Homo sapiens: one gene and its partners. The protein of the gene in region 3 purifies or fractionates together with the protein of the main gene of each other region. This does not show direct contact. Each region holds a gene or a part of one and is shown on either strand. Other genes may lie near its edges.

The links.
Region 1: the proteins of TNIP3 (region 3) and GLDC purify together in Homo sapiens (co-immunoprecipitation; one large-scale study listed by IntAct). This does not show direct contact.
Region 2: the proteins of TNIP3 (region 3) and LATS2 purify together in Homo sapiens (affinity purification with western blotting; one study listed by BioGRID). This does not show direct contact.

The regions. Positions count from the first base shown.
Region 1 is NC_000009.12:6,534,849-6,537,886, forward strand, and holds part of GLDC (glycine dehydrogenase (decarboxylating), mitochondrial precursor), read right to left. Parts: intron 1,389-3,038; coding exon 1,216-1,388; intron 1-1,215. UniProt on the Homo sapiens protein: The glycine cleavage system catalyzes the degradation of glycine.
Region 2 is NC_000013.11:20,974,430-20,978,086, reverse strand, and holds part of LATS2 (serine/threonine-protein kinase LATS2), read left to right. Parts: intron 1-2,722; coding exon 2,723-3,217; 3' UTR 3,218-3,657. UniProt on the Homo sapiens protein: Negative regulator of YAP1 in the Hippo signaling pathway that plays a pivotal role in organ size control and tumor suppression by restricting proliferation and promoting apoptosis.
Region 3 is NC_000004.12:121,157,787-121,161,443, forward strand, and holds part of TNIP3 (TNFAIP3-interacting protein 3), read right to left. Parts: intron 3,431-3,657; coding exon 3,350-3,430; intron 967-3,349; coding exon 901-966; intron 1-900. UniProt on the Homo sapiens protein: Binds to zinc finger protein TNFAIP3 and inhibits NF-kappa-B activation induced by tumor necrosis factor, Toll-like receptor 4 (TLR4), interleukin-1 and 12-O-tetradecanoylphorbol-13-acetate.

The DNA of each region.
Region 1 (3,038 bases), on a different chromosome or scaffold from region 3:
CTGCACCTCAACCGTCAATCTTCTGACAGGAGCCCAGGCAGAGAAAGCTGTTGTTTTCTTTCAATTTAGGGGGGTACAATGTGATTTATAATTGTGAAATATTTTAAATATCAGAACGTTATGGTAATAATCATCACATCCACCACCCAGTAAAGTCTAATGAGCATTCTGTCATATTTGCTTCATCTTTTAGAAAAAATTACCTACACGTTTGGTGCTGCCTGTATATCCCCATCCCAGTGCTAACCACTCTTCTGAATTCGGTGTTTACCATTCTCATCATGCTTTTATACTATTACTGCATATGTTAATAAACTGCATATAGCATAATTTGGCTCATTTTAAAATCTGATATCATCATATGAGTGGTATTATCCACTTGTATTATAACTCACTATTATGCTCTTTGAAATGTTTATTGCCATTTAAAAAAATAGCCTAAATCCTGAAAGAAGCAGGTGTCTTCAGAGAGAAAAGAGTAATAAACGGTGGTAAGCATAATCATCTTGTATGCCTCCATGACTCTGTGAACTCACCTCTAGAGAGGTGCCTGCCTTCTGCAAGTCACTGGTCCCTGCCCTCTCCTACAGGTAGGCAGTTTGGAAACCTGCCCCAGCTGCTGCAGTCATATCAGACTTGTTCTCTGGCTTACAGCCATGAAGACACAACCACAGCCTTCATGGTATTCTCCACTCCTGATCTTCCAGCTTAATATCTGGACTAACAAGAAACTTAGGACTCTGACCAGATGTAAAATTAACATGTTTTGGAAGCGGCAGAGTAATGCCCAACCAACTTTTCCCCAACATGGGGCATAAACATTGTAACATCCAGTCCAAATGTCAATCCAGTTTTCTCAGAGATAACTGCTCTAATATAAGAATGTGTGCTTGTACAGAGTTTGTGATGTGAATATGTAAATTTTATTTATGCCATAATCTCACTACAGTACATCAAACAGAGATGCAGAATGTTACAAATTCTCCAACTAGACAGCTGTGGACAGCTTCCACAACCACATCATCCTTGAGTAACTGCTATGCTGTTCAAGACGATGGAAACTTCAAAGTAACAACTGCATCTTCTCAGAAGAATTACCTTATTCTAGGGAAGAGTATCATCCTCAGTTGAGAGTTCGGGAGTTGCTGGTACACTGTCCAGACATCATTTTCTAGTTTAAGGAACATTTCAAGCAATGTTCCAGGGCCTACGCACCTTCAGCGGATTGACCCTGGGGTCGATGCGGCCCTCCTCAATGTCAGCAATTTCCTGCCGAATGCTGATCATGGCATCACAGAATCTGTCCAGCTCTGCCTTGTCCTCCGACTCAGTGGGCTCCACCATGAGGGTCCCTGCCACAGGCCAGGACATGGTAGGGGCGTGAAATCCTGCAAAGGGAGACAGGAGAACTTGCCTCACTGAAGGTCAGTGGCCTACCCAGTTTGGAAGAAAAGTTCGTATCCCTTCTTATATTTTATCCTAAGAAAATCATCAGATACATTTGCAAATGTATGTATGTGGGGACTCATCTCAGTGCTGTTCATAGAAGAAAAATTTAGGAAACAACCTAATATCCAACAATGGGGGATCAGATAAGCAAATTTTACAGAGCACCTATATGGTAAATAGACAACCATTCAAAAGTACATAAATGTGTTAAACTGGCTAAACATTCAAAAATATTAAGTGAAAAAAGCAAGCCACATAATGATATCCCATTTCTATATATAAATAAAAGGACAAAGTACTTATATGTGTATTTTATGAGGGAAGATGCCTTGAAGAAAACATAAAATGTTAACTCTAAATATGGCCGGAAAATGAGACTGGGATTTTTCTTTCACTTCGATTGTATTTTAGAGTCTTTCAGTAATTATCATGTATTATGTGCAATTAAGAGAAATAAAAATATTATAGCTTATCAAAAGTTAAATAATGAGATAACAAGTGTTAAAGACTCTGGAGCAAATCTTATTGTCCCCATTTTGTATGATAAGGAAACTGAAGTTTGGCCAGTATGTGGAAAGCCTTTGCCTTTACATTGAACACAGGCTCAGTGTGTTTCTGTTTCCAAAGGTTTTCACATGTAAGGTAGTGCAACAAGGTATGTAGTCAAGAGACAGATTTCCAGGACAAAAATCAAAAACAACATTTTCATTTCTTATAATTTTTCTGTAAAGCATTTTTTTTTTTTTTTTTGGAGACAGGGTCTTGCTGTATCGCTCAGGTTAGAGTGCACTGGCACACTCACGGCTCACTGCAGCCTCAACCTCCTGGGCTCAAGTGATCCTCCCACCTAAGCCTTCCAAGTAGCTGAGACTACAGGTGCACGCCACCATGCCCAGCTAATTTTGTTGTTGTTGCATAGACAGAGTTTCACCATGTTGTCCGGGCTACCGAGCTCAAGCGATCTGCCTGTCTCTGCCTCCCAATATGCAGAGATAACAGGCATGAGCCACCACACCAGGCCTATGAAACTTTTAAAAGCTGAAGAACAACTCCCAGGTTGATACACCTCTGAACTAATCTTGCCCCAATGTGCAGTGGTTCTCAAATTCTGGTGAGCATCATTATTACATGGAGTACTTTAAAGTAACATCTGCATGATTTCAAACATTCTCTACCAACATTTTATTTAAAAATGTTCAGGCCAAGTGCTGTGGCTCACACACCTATAATCCCAGCACTTTGGGAGGCCAAGGCCAGCGGATTGCTTAAGCCCAGGAGTTTGAGACCTGCCTGGGCAACATGGCAAAACCCCGTCTCTACAAAAAATACAAAAATTAGCTGGGTGTGGTGGTATGTGCCTGTAATCCCAGCTACTTAGAAAGCTGAGGTGGGAGGATCACTTGAATCCAGGAGGTGAGCCTGCAGTAAGTCAAGATCACAACACTGCACTCCAGCCTGGGTGACAGAGTAAGACCTTGTCTCTATTAAAAAAAAAACACTAACATCCAGATGAGTTGAAAGGACTGTAGGTGAGCACCCATATACCCACCACCTAGATTCTACAATGCTGTTGTTTGCTTTATCACATC
Region 2 (3,657 bases), on a different chromosome or scaffold from region 3:
AAAATTAGCCTGGCATGGGGGCGGGCGCCTGTAGTCTCAGCTACTTGGGAGGCTGAGGCAGGAGAATCGCTTGAACCCAGGAGGCAGAGGTTGCAGTGAGCCGAGATCACGCCACTGCACTCCAACCTGGATGACAGAGCGAGACTCTGTTTCAAAAAAAGAAAAAAGAGAAATCGAAAAACCCTAAAGTAAGGCTTAGTTTCACTCTAGGAACAGTAAAATTGGAATCTGGCATTATCTGCGCCCTAATTGAATGGCTGAGCTACTCACTAAATTGCCCACATGATAATTCAGATTTTTTTATTCTGGTAAAATATACATAACATAAAATTTACCATCTAATTATTTTAATGGTAAATTAAAATTTACCATCTAATTATTTTAATGGTAAATTAAAATTTACCATCTAATTATTTTAATGGTAAATTAAAATTTACCATCTTAATTATTTTAATTACCATTTATTTAATAATTATTTTAATTATTTACCATTTTTAATTATTTTAGTGTATAATTCAGTGACATTAAGTACATTCACAATATTGTGCAACCATCACCACCCTCTATTTTCAAATGTGTTAATCGTCCCAAACCCATTAAACAGAAACTCCCCACTCTCCTTTTCAGCACCTGCTCGCCTCTCTTCTGCTTCCTGTCTCTGTGAGTTTGGTTATGCTTAGGACTTTTTTTTTTTTTTTTTTGAGACAGGGTTTTGCTCTGTATCCCAGGCTGCAGTGCAGTGGCACAATCTTGGCTCATTGCAACCTCTGCCTTCCGGGTTCTCATGCCTCAGCCTCCCAAGCAGCTGGGATTACAGGTGCCTGCCACAACACCAGCTAATTTTTGTATTTTTAGTAGAGATGTGGCTTCATCATGTTGGTCAGGCTGGTTTCAAACTCCTGACCTCAAGTTATCCACCCACCTCAGCCTCCCAAAATGTTGGGATTATAGGTGTGAGCCACTGTGCCTGGCCTCGGGACTTCTTGTAAGTGGAGTCATGCAGTATCTGTCTTTTTGTGTCTAGTTTATTTCACTTAGCGTAATGTCCTCAGGGTTCATCCATTGTTGTAGCTTCCTTTTTAAGGTGGAATAATAATTCCACTGTATGAGTCCCTGCTTCCGGTTCTTTTGGATATAAACCAGAAAGTGGGTTTATATCCCACTGGATTATATGGTCGTTCTGTGTTTAACTTTTTGAGGAACTCCCAAACTGTTTGCCATAGTGGCTGCACCATTTTACATTCCCACCAACAGTGACTGAGTGTTCAGTTTCCCTACATCCTCAATAAGTATTTTCCTGTTTTTGTTTTTTTTAAGTAGTAGCCACCCTAGGGGATGTAAGGTGGTATCTCATTGTGGTTTTGAGTTGTATTTCCCTAGTGTTTAATTATATTGAGCTTATTTTCATGTCCTTATTGGTCATTTGTATATCTTTGGAAATATCTCCTCAAGTCCATTACCCTTTTTAAATCAACTTATTTGGTTTTGTTATTGTTGTTGAGTTGTAGGAGTTCTGTATTTTCTCTGGGTACTAACCCCTTTTCAAATACATGTTTTGAAATCTGTTCTCCCATTTTGTTGCCTTTTTGCTATCAGTAATGTCCTTCGATGCACAAAAGTTTTAAATTTTTATGCAGTCCAATTTATTTTTTCTTTTATTCCCTGTGCTTTTGGTGGCATGTCTAAGAAATCATTGCCAAACTCAGGTTCATGAAGATTTCACCCTATGTTTTCTTCTAGGAGCTCTACAGTTTTAGCTCTATGAAAACAACTACTTAGGTTCAAACCAAGCCTACCACCCACACACCCACTAACTTCCATGCCTTATCCGCTGTCCCATCACCCCAGCTGGTAGCCAGTCATGTTGGCCTTGTTTCCTCCTGATTCTAAGTGTAAACAATAAAGAAGTCCCCTAGGTTTTGTCTTCACAGTAGACACATCTCTACAACAAGTGCATTTACTGAACGTCCAGATGGCTGGTTTGTGCAGTTGAGCATGTAAGGTCACATGGGGTCAGTCAGCTTTATTCTTCCCTATGAAGTTTTTCCTGTTTGTTTTTCAAAACCCCAGTTGGCCGTTTTTTGACCGCAATAAGTATTTGAATGAGCGTCATGATGGTTTGCAGAAAGCCATTGCCATAGCTAAAGAAATAACTTTAGCTGATCACCTGAGGTCAGGAGTTCAGGACTAGCCTGGCCAACGTGGTGAAACCCTGTCTCTACTAAAAATACAAAAATCAGCCGGGTGTGGTGGCAGGCGCCTGTAATCCCAGCTACTCGGGAGGCTGAGGCAGGAGAATCGCTTGAACCCAGGAGGCGGAGGTTGCAGTGAGCCAAGATCGCACCACTGCACTCCAACCTGGGCAACACAGCGAGACTCCATCTCAAAAAAATAAAAAGAAAGAAAGAACTTGTAGACCATCATTCTCTTCATTTTTGTGGAAAGCACAAAATTCTTTGGCTAAACAGTATTTCTGATAGAAGAAAATCAGTATCTTTTTGTCTGTATTTGACTGGTCATCCTGGCCTCAGGCTGTGAGCCATCGACTGAAATGACACTGACTTTTTGTGGCTGCTGAGATCAACAACTGCTGCTTGTGTCTATTCTAACTCCTCTCCTATTGTGAAACTAAACATATTTGAAAGTCACGTCATCACACGCTGTCCCAGAACTGCCCAAGATGTGAGGAGAAACTAACCTGTTGGCTCTGTTGTTTCCTCAGGTGATCAACTGGGAGAACACGCTCCACATTCCAGCCCAGGTGAAGCTGAGCCCTGAGGCCAGGGACCTCATCACCAAGCTGTGCTGCTCCGCAGACCACCGCCTGGGGCGGAATGGGGCCGATGACCTGAAGGCCCACCCCTTCTTCAGCGCCATTGACTTCTCCAGTGACATCCGGAAGCAGCCAGCCCCCTACGTTCCCACCATCAGCCACCCCATGGACACCTCGAATTTCGACCCCGTAGATGAAGAAAGCCCTTGGAACGATGCCAGCGAAGGTAGCACCAAGGCCTGGGACACACTCACCTCGCCCAATAACAAGCATCCTGAGCACGCATTTTACGAATTCACCTTCCGAAGGTTCTTTGATGACAATGGCTACCCCTTTCGATGCCCAAAGCCTTCAGGAGCAGAAGCTTCACAGGCTGAGAGCTCAGATTTAGAAAGCTCTGATCTGGTGGATCAGACTGAAGGCTGCCAGCCTGTGTACGTGTAGATGGGGGCCAGGCACCCCCACCACTCGCTGCCTCCCAGGTCAGGGTCCCGGAGCCGGTGCCCTCACAGGCCAATAGGGAAGCCGAGGGCTGTTTTGTTTTAAATTAGTCCGTCGATTACTTCACTTGAAATTCTGCTCTTCACCAAGAAAACCCAAACAGGACACTTTTGAAAACAGGACTCAGCATCGCTTTCAATAGGCTTTTCAGGACCTTCACTGCATTAAAACAATATTTTTGAAAATTTAGTACAGTTTAGAAAGAGCACTTATTTTGTTTATATCCATTTTTTCTTACTAAATTATAGGGATTAACTTTGACAAATCATGCTGCTGTTATTTTCTACATTTGTATTTTATCCATAGCACTTATTCACATTTAGGAAAAGACATAAAAACTGAAGAACATTGATGAGAAATCTCTGTGCAATAATGTAAAAAAA
Region 3 (3,657 bases):
TGGAGATTATAGCCATCACTAACACTGTCTTCACACACCTGCAAGCCGTTCGAGAAAGCAGCTTAAGCATTCTCTCTGGGATCATCATCTTTAACATTTACAGATCCGGATTGCCCCAGCAGGGATATTGCAAGGCTGCCTGACCATTGCCTGGTGCAGCAGGAACATTATCCTGCACCTTCTAAATTCAATACTTCTGGGTAACAAAATGAGGAAGAAAGGAAAAATGCTGCTATATTACAATACTCATGGTCAAGTTTCTTAATACTGAATTATTTAGGGGAAAGTACTTGCTCTTTTTATCTCTTTTTGAAAATAGAATAATTTTAAATTATAAATTGTCTTTTATGTATTAAAGGAGGTTTTCTTCCAAAAGCCCCTTTCTCACCAGAGCTTCTTGAGAGCAAATATGCTTTAGATGGAAGAGGAGGTTGCTCCATTTTTACTCACATTTTCACTGTTACCACCATTTGTTTCTCTATTTGTGGAAAATAGGTCATGCTATCTAATTAAAGAATTAGGGCTAACCTGGCGTAAACAGTATGGACTTTAAACCATATCTCACCTCACATATAACTTTGTGTATTTGTGGCTTCTAGTGACAAAGGTAAGGCTGGGATACTCTGTGAGCCACGATAAATGTGCACAAGAACTCTTGAGACATCACTGGGGGCCATTTTTGCACCTTTCTTTAGCTATTGCTCAAGACAACTCACTGACACCGTTCATTAATTTTCAGTGCCATGAGACCAATACTACACTTAGCACCCTTCCCGTCATTTTCCAACAGTTGGCTATCCACAAAGCTCTTTGTAGCTGAAATGAATGAGACTCTTCACACAATTGGCCCCACCAGGATAATGGCTTTAAAGAAAATACCGAATAGAGAGAGGTATTTACCTTTCTTTCATATAACTCTTTCATACTTCTAAATTGCTGATCCCATTGCTGGTTAACTTCCAGGAGCTGAAATCATTAAAATTTGGTGAATCAACAAAGAATTTCTGCCCATTTGGAAGTTTGGTCAAAAAGAAATTACTTTCTGAGCTTATTAAGGTTTTAGAAGCCATGGATGAAGACAATATTTTTTTCCATCAAGTTCTGATTGTGCTGGGATGATTAAATTGAACACACTCTCACTGTTTATAACTGGTTCGTATATGAAAAACTACTGGCTGGGTCCGGTGGCTCACGCCTGTAATCCCACCACTCTGGGAGGCCATGGCAGGTGGGATCACTTGAGGTCAAGAGTTGGTGACCAGCCTGCCCAACATGGTGACATCCCGTCTCTACTAAAAATACAAAACTTAGCCGGACGTGGTGGCATGCACCTGCAGTCCCAGCTACTGGGGAGGCTGAGGCAGGAGAATCACTTGAACCCAGGAGGTGGAGGTTGCAGTGAGCCGAGATTGTGCCACTGCACTCCATCCTGGGCGACAGAGTGAGACTCCATCTCATGGAAAGAAAAGAAAAAAAAGAAAAGAAAAGAAAAGAAAAACCAGTAAGTCTCAGGTATATCTTGACAAGTCAGCTGAACAGTTTATCAGTAACTTTTAACTTTTTTTAGTTATTTGGATTTTCATTTTCTTTGTTTAATCCAACCACAATCTGATAAAAATTTGTAAGTATTGATGATTGTCTGTAAGATTTCTTAATGCATGGAGGTTCTTTTCCCAAACTTTTTCGTATTTTTCTTTGTGCTTACACTGATTATAATGAAATATTTTTTCCAGCTCTTTTAAAGCAGAATTTATGCTAACAAAGCCTAGGCTCCATTAACTGATCACGATTTTCTTGCAATAATGTGTTTTAAAAGATTAACACATGATTTATAATAAATACTCAACAAATAGGTAATATCACCATTTTGAAAATTTAGATTTTCAAGAAATTATAGTTTCGTCATAGGACAATATTTAGATGCATTTTAGGCTACAAATAATTTAAAGATCTTAAGACTATCTGCTAATTAGAAGGCAGAAGAAGTGCTATGATATGTGGTTGGCTTTTTGTTGGGGAAGTTTGTAGTTTTCTGCATTAAGAGAAATTCCAACGCTTATCTATAGGGAACAGACACTGAGAAGACAGTCATAATGACTAAAAAGTAGCAAAACTTTCTCCTAATTAAAAAGCAAACTACTGAATCCAGAGTGGCAGTTACTAGGTAACTCTTATGCTGAAAATACATATCATTATTTAGTATGAAACTGTATAATATTATTATATTGAGAGTTACTCTGTTGGCATTTTAGGGATTCCCATGTGTATACTATAGTAACATTACTCTGCCATCGTTCAATAATTTTCCAGAAGGTCACAATATTCTTCAAGTATCAAAGAAGAGTAGAAGGCACCATGCAAGAGAACATGAAAGATGTAGTACACAGAATGAATTAGAAAAGGAATTACAGGCTGGGCACGGTGGCTAACTCCTGTAATTCCAGCACTTTGGGAGGCTGAGGTGGGCAGATCACTTGAGGATAGGAGTTCTAGACCAGGCTGGCCAAAATGGCGAAACCCCATCTCTACTAAAGATACAAATATTAGCTGGGCATGGTCGTGCACGCCTGTAATCCCAGCTACTTGGGAGGCTGAGGCACAAGAATCACTTGAACCCTGGAGGCAGAGGCTGCAGTGAGCTGAGATCGTGCCACTGCACTCCAGCCTGGGTGACAGAGCAACACTGTCTCAAAAAAAAAAAAGAAGGAATTACAAAATTGACAATATACAGAGTGCTAAAATTGTTATACTTTTCACTACTTCCTCTGTCAAGAAGAGTAAAGAGGTTCTAACATTCATTAAGCTCAGAAAAATAAAATTCCAAATAATACCCATTAATTCCCAGGAACATTTTAGAAACAAACTTTATTTATGATAATGCTTTTTAACTCCCATGTGTTTGGATGCCCAGTTCATGAAGTCATAGCACCTAAATCAACTATACTTAAAGACTTTTCAAGTAACTCAAGAAACCTTGAGTTTCAAGGTGTGTCAAGTTGCAAGGCATAAAGGGTAAAGGTCATAAGGCACAAACGATAAAGGCATAAAGGATAAAGTAACTTGGTCTGTGTGGAGGAAACATCTAAGTTTTGAGAAAATTAGGATTATATTACCAGACTTATGACTTTGTCGTTTTTCATTCGTCACTGCACAGACACTGAGACAACAAGTATGAAACATACAGGTGAATAAGAAAGAAGGCGTTTGCTTTCAAAATAGTGCAGTCCAGTATCTTAAAGATAAATACTGTGACCTGATAACAAAAATAAAAGGCACAAGGATAATACATTATTTTATCCTCAGCATTAATCCATGGCACCTGTGGCTTTAGCGAATATTTCTAAGTTACCTCTTTTCTTTGTTTTTCCAAACACCTTATCTTTTGTTCAAGAGAATTCATCAAGTTCTTTCTTGTTGATGGTTCAGCACACTTAGAAAAAAAAAAAGAGAGAAGATTGAAACAAAGCTGTTTACAAAATAAACAGAAGTACTGTTCCTCAGAAACCCCATGCATTTGGCCAACTCTCCTGTTGCGATTTAAAAAATACCTGATTCTAGCAGTAATAATCCTCATACCCTAAGTCCTTCATCATGGCTGGTGGATGAGTCAGCTTCATATTATGTTTTAGAATGCTTTACATAAATTAGTTACCAATA